Homo sapiens: one gene and its partners. The protein of the gene in region 1 purifies or fractionates together with the protein of each later gene. This does not show direct contact. Each region holds a gene or a part of one and is shown on either strand. Other genes may lie near its edges.

Region 1 (3,656 bases):
GGAAGCCAGCATTTTAAAAAAATGTTATTAAATGAAATGAATATGCTGTGCATGATAAAAGCTGAATCATGGAAAATTATTTAGGTGGTAATACTGACTGATAATTTATCAACAATTAGGGAGTATCAGCCCAAATGGTAGTCCAGAAATCTAGATCTAAACATTAGTATTTTATTAATGGCCTAGATCTAGATGAAAAACTATAGAAAATGTTCATTACACTTACAGGTGACATCAGCACAACCTGTAGTGAAGTGTACCAAAATGAAGAAGTAATTTACAAAAACACAATAAGGCTTTTACAATAACAAAATAAACTAGACTAAATGCAGTGTTGAATCTCGGATTGTATCCCAGGGCAGTAAATGGATAGTGGAACAACCAGTGAATTTCTGAATAGTATCTACAGTCTAAAATGATATTATAGCTATGTTAATTTCTTAAGTTTTGACCGATGTACCACGGTTATGCAAGATACAAACCTTACGGGAAAGTCGGTGAAAAGTACATAGAAATCTTTGTAATGCTTCTGTAAATAAAACCAACCACCTTTACAAAAACTGTAACAGTGAGAAAATCATAACAGTGAAAAAAAATCTGACCTAACCAACTCTATCTTGCCTTTAACCTTCAAGCTGCCCATGGTCATTCCCAAGTGAGAACCAAGCTAACTTTGGAAGAATTTAGTTTACAGGTTAAATGATAACAGCTCTTCCCTAAACTAAACTGCCTTTATAAAACTAATAAAAGGTCACAAGTTTAGGATTATGAGAGGGGACTGAATTTTGTTGTGATTACATGTAAACAATTACCAGCCACTGGTCTGGAGATCACAAGATTTGCAACTTCTCCAATTACTTCTACACATAATATCACTATTAAAGAAGCTAAGATTGGCCTTTTAAAAGATAGACCACTTTCAGATTTTTATATTTCTGATGACTGGATAACTCCTCCCAAACCAGCAACTCCTGTGGCCCCCCCATCCAGAAATGGACTCAGCATACAAGGACCATTTTCCATACCCCTGCAATTGCCTCCCCAACCAATCAGCAGCACCCATTCTCTAACCCCCTGCACACCAAACTATCTTTTAAAAAGTCTAGCCTCCAAATTTTTAGGGAGGTTAATGTGAGTAATAATAAAACCCTGGCCGCCTGTTTAGCCGGCTCTGTGTGCATTAAACTCTTTTTCTCTATTGCAATTCTCCCGTGTTGATAAACCAGTTCTATCTGGGCAGCAAGAAAGAAGAACCTGTGGGGTGGTTACATAAATCAAAGTTGTTCCAAAATTAAAAGTTTATTTGAAAATAATAATGTATTTATGAAAGAAGCTGCACACATCTCAAATGGAGGAGAGACGTTAACTGATCTCTGGATTGTTTTCTCCTCAACTTCACAAACCAAAATCCCTAAGTAGCAGCCCCATGCACAAACACACAGGGATCTTACCTGAAAGCACACTATTCCACGTGTGCTCCCCTTGACTGGCCACAGCCTCAATGTGCACCCTCTTTTCTCCCACTTCAGGGTCTAGCAAGTGAAGGAAATCAGAATATTTCACCCCAAATTATACTTCTTTGACATATTTTGAGATGGCTGTTCAGAGGGCCTGCAAACAAACAGCCCTGCAAAGCTGTCTTTTGTGAGGTAGATTTGTGTCTGTAGAGAAAATCTGCATTGATGCAACCTGGCCTTCTCTGAAGGTTCTCTCTTGTCTGGATCTAGGAAAGACTAACTGAGAGTCTGACACTTTTAAAGGTCTGAAAGAAATATTCACCATCTATTCTCTCTGAGGGCTCCTCCCTATGAGGTTTCATCTACATGACAGGACCACCTTTGCCTCAAGATGGTATATAAGCTTCTGAGCCTCTTGGGGTTCAGGTAATCACTCTGTCTCCCTCCTCCCACCCCACACGTTAATAAACTTGTATGCCATTTCTCCGATTAATCTACCTGTTGTCAGTTTTTTCTGGCAAGTCTTCAGAGGGCAGAGGGGAAGTTCTCCCTTGGTCTCTACATAAGTCATGTCTTAGCTCTTTCTGTTTCAATACTCATTCCCACTCAACCCATTAGATCTTCACCAGCCCACTTCCCTGCCGACCTGAATCTGTGGTCATCCACTTCAATCTTGGCTTCACTGACTCTCTAATTCCCTACATCCTGGACCTCTGGCACTCCCCAGGCCTAAATCACTCCCATTGCTTTTCTTATTCTCAGCTATTAAATGGGGATATTCCTAACACACAGTCACACAACACTGAACGTGACTGGAACACATCTGAACTGTCATTTTTGGGAAGTGTGATAGGAAATGACCAAAAGGTAACTATTATAAAACTATACAGAATTATTAAACTCAGTGAAGATTCAACTGAATACAAATTTATTGTTTAAAATTTAATTGTATATATACCAAATTATATATAAATATATACAAATACAAATATATATGAATTGAGTTAAACCAAGTTGTTTCTAAGATCCCTTGAAGCTCATTGGTTCTGAGTTCCTACTTTACTAACTGAAGGCATCCAACATTTGATCTTCTCCTTTCTGCTTTTCAAAATGTTCCTGTATCCACTCTTCATTCCGTCTTTCTTTTCTTAAGGAAAAGACATGCATCCCTCTTTTCTTTCCTTGGATATCCCAATAATCCATAGTCTCTACCCCATGTTTGCTTTCTTTTTCCTAGGGCCTACCCATTGTCTTCAACATCTTTACTCATTTGACTTTCATACAAATATATATCTCCCCTCCTCTGAAAAGAAAAATCTTCATTAATCCTCCTGTCTCTCTAGTTGCCATCCTGTATTCCTTTCACTGCCACTTTATAACAATAACTACCAACATTTCACCTCTCAATTTCCTCAACCTAAACTTGCTTCTACTTAGATCTTTTGCTAAACTCCACGTTCTATCTCAGCCCTTATTCCTAAGTACTACTGATGATGTCCTCTAAGCCAGGGGTCCCCAACCCCCAGGCCACAGACCAGTACCGGCCTGTTAGGAACTGGGCCTGTTGGGAACCCGGCTGCAGAGCAGGTGAGTGGTCTGCGAGTGAAGCTTCCTCTGTATTTACAGCCACACCCCATCACTCGCATTACCACCGAGCGCTGCCTCCTGTCAGATCAACAGCAGCATTAGATCCTCACAGGAGCTTGAACCCTGTTGTGAACTGCACATGCGAGGGATCTAGGCTGCATGTTCCTTATGAGAATCTAAGGCCTGATGATCTGTCACTGTCTCCCATCACCCCCAGGTGGGACTGTATAGTTGCAGGATAACAAGCTCAGGGCTCCCATGGATTTTATATTATGGTGAGTTGTATAATTATTTCATTATATATTACAATGTAATAATAATAGAAATAAAGTGCACAATAAATGTAATGTACCTGAATCATCCTGAAACCATCCCCCCAACCCATCCGTGGAAAAAAGTGTCTTCCACAAAACTGATCCCTGGTGCCAAAAAATTTGGGGACCACTGCTCTAAGCAATGCCTCCTCCTTTTGCTCTCAGGACCTTCATTATCTCTTCCTCTGTATCTGCAACCCTGTGCCTAGAATGCTGATTCAAGAAAAAACCCAACACGTCCTTTGCCTAGAACACCCTACCCAAACCCTTGTAAACCTGGTGAGTCCCAGGAATCTTT
Region 2 (2,829 bases), on another chromosome or scaffold:
TTCAACTGAGGATATAACATTGAAAATATTGACCATATCAGTGAAGAATGGGCTTGGAAAAGGCAATGGTAATAGTTGTGTTTATGTTTTGTTTAAAATTTGAAAGGGGGCCGGCGCAGTGGCTCACACCTGTAATCCTAGCACTTCGGGAGGCTGAGGCAGGGGAATCACGAGGTCAGGAGTTCAAGACCAGCCTGACCAATATGGTGAAACCCTGTCTCTACTAAAAATACAAAAATTAGCCAGGCATGGTGGCACGCACCTGTAGTCCCAGCTACTCGGGAGGCTGAGGGAGGAGAATCACTTGAACCCGGGAGGTGGAGGTTGCAGTGAGCCAAGATCATGCCACTGCACTCCAGCCTGGGCAATAGAGCGAGACTCCATCTCAACAACAACAACAACAAAAATTTGAAAGGGGTTTGGCTCATCTTACAGTATCCCAGCCTTAGTGGAATTGGAGATACCAGTTGCATTTGAAATCATTTGGGTTTTCTCAGAAATACCAAGCTGTGCTGAGGAGAAAGGCCCTGTTGATTTTTCTGGTAGTTCACAGACTGCGTTGGTCCAGTAAGCAGAGATGAACACCAGATTTCAAAACCCAGCCCTGTCTGTTAAGAGTGAGGTAGGAACTTTTTGTTTTCTTTCTATATGTAAGGTGGGCCAAGTTGGGGTATGTTTTCAAGGGTTTTTTGGTTTGTTTTTGTTTTTGTTTTTGTTTTTGTTTTTATTTTTGTTTTTTTTTTGCTACAGTTGGAGGCTTAAGGGTTATTGAAAAAAGAATGGGCCGGGCGCAGTGGCTCACGCCTGTAATCCTAGCACTTTGGGAGGCCAAGGCAGGTGGATTGCCTGAGTTCCGGAGTTCGAGAACAGCCTGGCCAACATGGTGAAACCCCATCTCTACTAAAAATACAAACGTTAGCTGGGTGTGGTGGTACGTGACTGTAGTCCCAGCTACTAGGGAGGCTGAGGCAGGAGAATTGCTTTAACCCGGGAGGCAGAGGTTGCAGTGAGCCAAGATTGTGCCACTGCACTCCACCCTGGGTGACAGAGCAAGACTCCGTCTCCAAAAAAAAAGAAAGAAAAAAGAATGTTTAACTTACTTATCTCTAGACATTTTGGACCTGGGCCCAGAGTATCAGGGTGTTAAAACTCCACTTATCCACAATTTTAAAAGGGTGAAGTGACTTGCTAGGAATCTAAGAGAAGTGTGCAGAGGCAATGGCTTAGCTGCGTCCAGGTGAAGCATACATCATTTCTTGGAAAAGGGCAGCTGAGTGTGAGCCTCATTTCTCTTCCCCTTCTACTCAGCTCTCCTGGGGGAGGTGCCAGCTGACTAATTCAGACTTGTCACCATCTAGGCACTGAACTCTTTATGTCATAATTTAAGAATATGTTTTTTAAATCACTAAGTAGTTTTGATTTGTTTTCATTTTTAAAAAAAGGTTTGACTTTGGAATTCATGGCAGCAAATGTCGTGAAATCAAGGTGTAGTATACAATTTAGGGGCTACTTTCTTTGCCTTCCTGAGGCTGGAGGTGTGGTCGGAAGCTTACTTGGGTCTCTGGTCAATATCTGTCTCTTTTGTTCTTTTCCCAAGACCTCGGTTCCTCAGTTTGATAATGCATCTTGGTAGGATAGAATATTTTAGCCTCATGGAAAATACGGAGGCCCAGGCTGAGTCTGCATTCTCCAATCTTACCAAACCCCCAAGAAGCCTCCCTCAGGTGCAGTGCAGTGTGCCAGGCAGGTTCGAGTTCCCAAAGGGTTTGGCAGGCATGTTTCTCTGTGAGGGTCTAGAGAAGCAGCAATATATAAAAGAAGCAGCAATATATAAAACCTTTAGCAGAAACAAAAAAATGTGGTTTGATTCCTGGCTCAATGAACTTGGGCAAGGCCTTTTCTGAGCTCTTTCTTGGGCCTCAGCTTGCTCATCTACAGGGTGAGGGAGTAGGTGTCAGTGATTCCCCAGGCCACTTTCAACCCTTCCGCTCAATTCTCATTACTAATAGTTGTTAATATTTCTTTGGATTCAATCTGGAACTAGGTAGAGATTTGGTTTTCTTTTCCACTTTGCTGCTTTTCTGCTCCTTTCTGAGCTTTTAATCCTCTTTTTATCAAATTACCTTTTATTTAAAATAAATGACTTTGAATCTGTACTGTATATTTACCTGAATAGTCTATTTATTGTAATTACATTTTTCTGAAATGGCTTTTATGTACTTAATAGTTTCCTTATTTTGTTACACTCTTGGATTTTATTTTATTAATTACCTTACTAGAATTAGAAGGGATTTAGAGCAGAAGTATTGTACACAAAGTAAAGTTCCAATAAAGCTTATAAGCTACAGAAGGCATTGTGGGAGATGTGGGTTTTAAAAGGTCGAGAAACATAAGAGGTTAATGTTGATAAATTTCATTAGGCCTTTGACAACTAAATATGACATTTGAACCTTGAGATTGCAGCAGCCCTTCCTCAGTCTTCAATAGGAAGGATTAAATTCAGTACTACTTTTGAATTTTAGAAACAAAATTGTATACCAGTTTTTGAATTCCATGTAGAGACTTCAGCTTCCTACTGAAAATGCTAGGATAATAAGTTAGTACTCTCATCTTCTGTCTCTACTCTGACATTAGCTAGTTGACAGTGGACAGAATATAGCCTTCATTATCACGTTGTCTTACTCTTATTGTTATTGTTGTTTTTTGAGGAAGGGCATAATCCTTTGGCCTAAACCGTGCTTCCTAGGCTTCCTAGGGATATGTAGTCCTTTTTTGTACAATGCATGTAGAGTCTCTTCAGACAGGAGGTGTCTGAGTCCCAGTGCTGAG
Region 3 (3,656 bases), on another chromosome or scaffold:
CAATTCTCCCTCCTCAGCCTCCTGAGTAGCTGGGACTACAGGCGCCTACCACCACACCTGGCTAATTTTTTGTATTTTTAGTAGAGACGGGATTTCACCATGTTGGCCAGGCTGGTCTCGAACCCCTGACCTCAGGTGATCTACCCACCTTGGCCTCCCAAAATGCTGGGATTACAGGCATGAGCCACCGTGCCTGGCCCCTATTCTTAACACTGTCTCCAAGAGGTTGATCTTATAACTCACCTCAGTAACCCATTATGGAGTCTTGCTGTTTCCAGTCTTGAGTTTTATACTTGATTGTTAGTACATGTTCATTCTTGTCCACTGTGGCTGTGAGAAGTAAAAAGTGGTCATGAAAAGTTTCATGTGATCTCCTGTAATCACACAGCATTATAGGTATGATTATCACACATTTGACTTCCCTGGGGTAAAGGCCAGTTTGATTCCCATCACTACAAGGGTCTCCAGGGAACAGCCATTGGCCTACTCATCCCAAACATTATTGATAGAACATTTCAATATCATAAAATAATCCACGTCACATTGTCCAAGAGTAGCGTACTGATTAGTCACAATTAAAATCGTGAAATGAAATCACACTGGACTAACAGCAAGGTTGTTTTTTGAAGAGATTAGCAACCTTTTGAAACACCTGTAACTAGAGATGCCAAATGAAATAAACAAGGCAGTCTGAAATCTTTCAGGATGCTTTAGTAACATATCTAGTTCTGACTGTCTTTGGGCTTAGCCAGACTTTTAGTAAACTGCAGAAATCCAGGTTGGGAAACAGGCAGCTCAGAGTTATTCTAAATAGCTACAGTTTGCCTGTACAGCTGACTTGGGAGGAGGGGAGAAGAAAGGGATTGCTAGAAAAGGGATTGATGTGAGTTTTGTATTTAATTTGGCTATGACTTGAGGAAATATACATCTCAGTCCAGGTGCAAATCATGTAACCTGGTATGATTACATGTGTTTAGGAATAATCAGAATAAAGCCTAGAAAAGAACAGGTTGGGAAGTTAGTTTTGGGTGGTAGAAGAATGGTGAGGCTGATTTTGTTAGTAGATTGCACATGGACAGATGAAGGTAAAGTACAGTGCCAGCTCCAGCTGGGCCTGGTGGAATCCAGTATGAGTGCTGTTTCAGATGGGACACCCCAACTGGGAGGGAGGTGGATCTAGAGAGGATGTCTGGCCCTGGCATCCCTTGAGTCTCTTGCATAGCTCAATTGTGTTGATGTTTAAGGAATAAGTAGGGAGATTTGTTTGTTTTTTAAATCTAGAACATAATTTCTTTAAGATCTTTCATTTCCACAAACCCAAGTTGGATTTACTGTATATGAGCTAAGGAAATTGGAGGTTGTCATCTTAAGGAGGCCCAGATACAGTTTTAGAAAGACCCTAGGGAGGAGGGATATCACAGGTCCTCCTCACAGACACCCATAGCCAGCTTGTCTGGTGTGCAGCAGCCACAGTTTGGCATCAACATCCTGAAATGAGGGTATTTAAGTGCCTGCATGTGCTACTGTGTCCTTTCATTATGCCCAGTCACCAGAGTTGGAATTACCCAAGGAATCGTGTGTGTTGTGGAGGCTGAGACATAAACACCATGGCTCTCCCCATTTCTTCAACTTCCTTGTAGTTCGGAGGAGGGAAAGCAGAGCCCTGGGCTCATCCATCCTCACTGCAGCCCCACCAGGAGATCCCATCAAGGCGGTCTTAGATTTCTAGGCTGAGGCAAGAAGGGGTTGGGCGATGAGCCCAGAGCCACACAGCCCAGCCCTGTTGTGGCCAGAGAGGGAAAGGGACTGACTTTGTCCTGCAAGTATGGAGACTGCTTTCTTCTTTCTGTTGTTTTCAGTGCAAGCTATCAGCTACCAAATGGCTGCCGTTTTGTTTTGTTTTGTTTTGTCCTTAGAGAAGCGCCCAGGGATCAGCTATCGGGAACAAGAAGGTATCACTGTTTTTTGGGGTATTTTTTAGATTGTCCAGTTTTGGTCATAGGTGGTTTGATTTCCTTTCACTGAATACAAAGCATGGATCTTGTCATCAAACCCAACCAAAGTCAATCTCAGTGTCATTCGCTATCTCTCTTCCCTCCTTACTGATCCCAGGAGAGAAGGTTAGGGTTGCACTAGTGATGGAACACCAGGATGATATAAAGCTTCCAACTTGGCTCAAGAAGAGTTCCAAACAAACAAGTATATCTGCCATTGCAGTGGCTCATGATATGTAAGTCTGGACTCTGTAGCTTCCAGTCCTCACTACCCTGGTCTTCCCCACCGTTCCTCTCTTTCCACAGGCCAAGAGATGCACAGTGATCGGTGGCTCTGGATTCCTGGGGCAGCACATGGTGGAGCAGTTGCTGGCAAGAGGATATGCTGTCAATGTATTTGATATCCAGCAAGGGTTTGATAATCCCCAGGTGCGGTTCTTTCTGGGTGACCTCTGCAGCCGACAGGTAATGGACCATGCAGCCTTGCTGATTTCCCACGAGCCCACGAAGGGAAACCACGATACTTCCCTTGCTCAGAAGCCAGCCAATTTGTTTGAAAAACAATTGTTTCATTGTGAAAATTTTCAAAGTTATAGGAAAGAACACCACATTCTTACTGCTTAGAATGAATAACCATCATCTCTGTCACAGATACTCAGCTGTGTCCTGGTAGCACAAAAGCAGCCATGGTCAGCACTTAAATGAACAAATGGCTGTGGCTGTATGCCAGTGAAACTTGACTTCAAAAGCCGTCCATGGGCTGTATTGTTCCAACTGCAAAACAAGTGTGTGCTGGGCCACAGGGTCTTGATTTTTTAATTGAGATATAATTCATGTACCACAAATTTCACATTTTTAAAGTGTGCAATTCAGTGATTTTCAGTACATCCACAAAGCTGTGCAACTGTCTCCCATGATCTAACTCCAGAATATTTGTATTACCCCAAAATGAAATCTTGTAGCCATCCCCTCTCTTCCCCTCCCAGCCCCTGGCCGCCACTCATCTACTTCCCATCTATGGATTGGCCTCTTCTGGACATTTCATATAAATGGAATCATGTAATATTTGTACCTCTGTGCCTGACTTTTTTCACTTAGCATGATGTTTTCAAGCTTCATCCATGTTGTACAGGTATGAATATCTTGAATTTTATTAGATGGTGCCAAATGGCTCAGCAAAGCTGCTATGTCAATTTTACCTCCATATCCACAATGTGGCACAAGCCCCATTGCTTCACATCTTTGCCAACACTGGGCATAACTAGACTTTTTGGTGTTGCCATTCTGAGAAGTATGAAGTGGTGCTTCACTGATGTTCAGAGTCACATGTCCTCCCTGACCAAGTAACCAGCCACTCTGCCACTGGGTGATCGGCTTTCAGGCTTCCTCCTGTGTGAAATGTTTGTCTGTGTCCTTTGCCCCTTTGTCTTTGGGGTTACCTTTGCTTCCTTGTTGATCTAGTTGGGATGCCAATCCTGTGCCCGTTGTACTTATTATGGATGGCTTCCCTCAGCCTGTCACTGGGCCCTTATTCTTGGCTTTGGTGTCATTCGCTATATGGTTTGTTGATGAAATATTAAGGCCATTGCTTCCGCTGCAAAGTTACGGTTGTTTTCTCTCCCGTGCTGCCCACACCTCCAGGCCTGGAGATGGGGTAGACAT

The links.
Region 2: the proteins of CDS1 (region 1) and ALDH3A2 purify together in Homo sapiens (affinity purification with mass spectrometry; one large-scale study listed by BioGRID and IntAct). This does not show direct contact.
Region 3: the proteins of CDS1 (region 1) and NSDHL purify together in Homo sapiens (affinity purification with mass spectrometry; one large-scale study listed by BioGRID and IntAct). This does not show direct contact.

The regions. Positions count from the first base shown.
Region 1 is NC_000004.12:84,585,999-84,589,654, reverse strand, and holds part of CDS1 (phosphatidate cytidylyltransferase 1), read right to left. Parts: intron 1-3,656. UniProt on the Homo sapiens protein: Catalyzes the conversion of phosphatidic acid (PA) to CDP-diacylglycerol (CDP-DAG), an essential intermediate in the synthesis of phosphatidylglycerol, cardiolipin and phosphatidylinositol.
Region 2 is NC_000017.11:19,672,654-19,675,482, forward strand, and holds part of ALDH3A2 (aldehyde dehydrogenase family 3 member A2), read left to right. Parts: intron 1-497; coding exon of another isoform or gene 498-581; exon of another isoform or gene 582-622; intron 623-2,829.
Region 3 is NC_000023.11:152,847,965-152,851,620, forward strand, and holds part of NSDHL (sterol-4-alpha-carboxylate 3-dehydrogenase, decarboxylating), read left to right. Parts: intron 1-2,300; coding exon 2,301-2,459; intron 2,460-3,656. UniProt on the Homo sapiens protein: Catalyzes the NAD(P)(+)-dependent oxidative decarboxylation of the C4 methyl groups of 4-alpha-carboxysterols in post-squalene cholesterol biosynthesis. Also plays a role in the regulation of the endocytic trafficking of EGFR.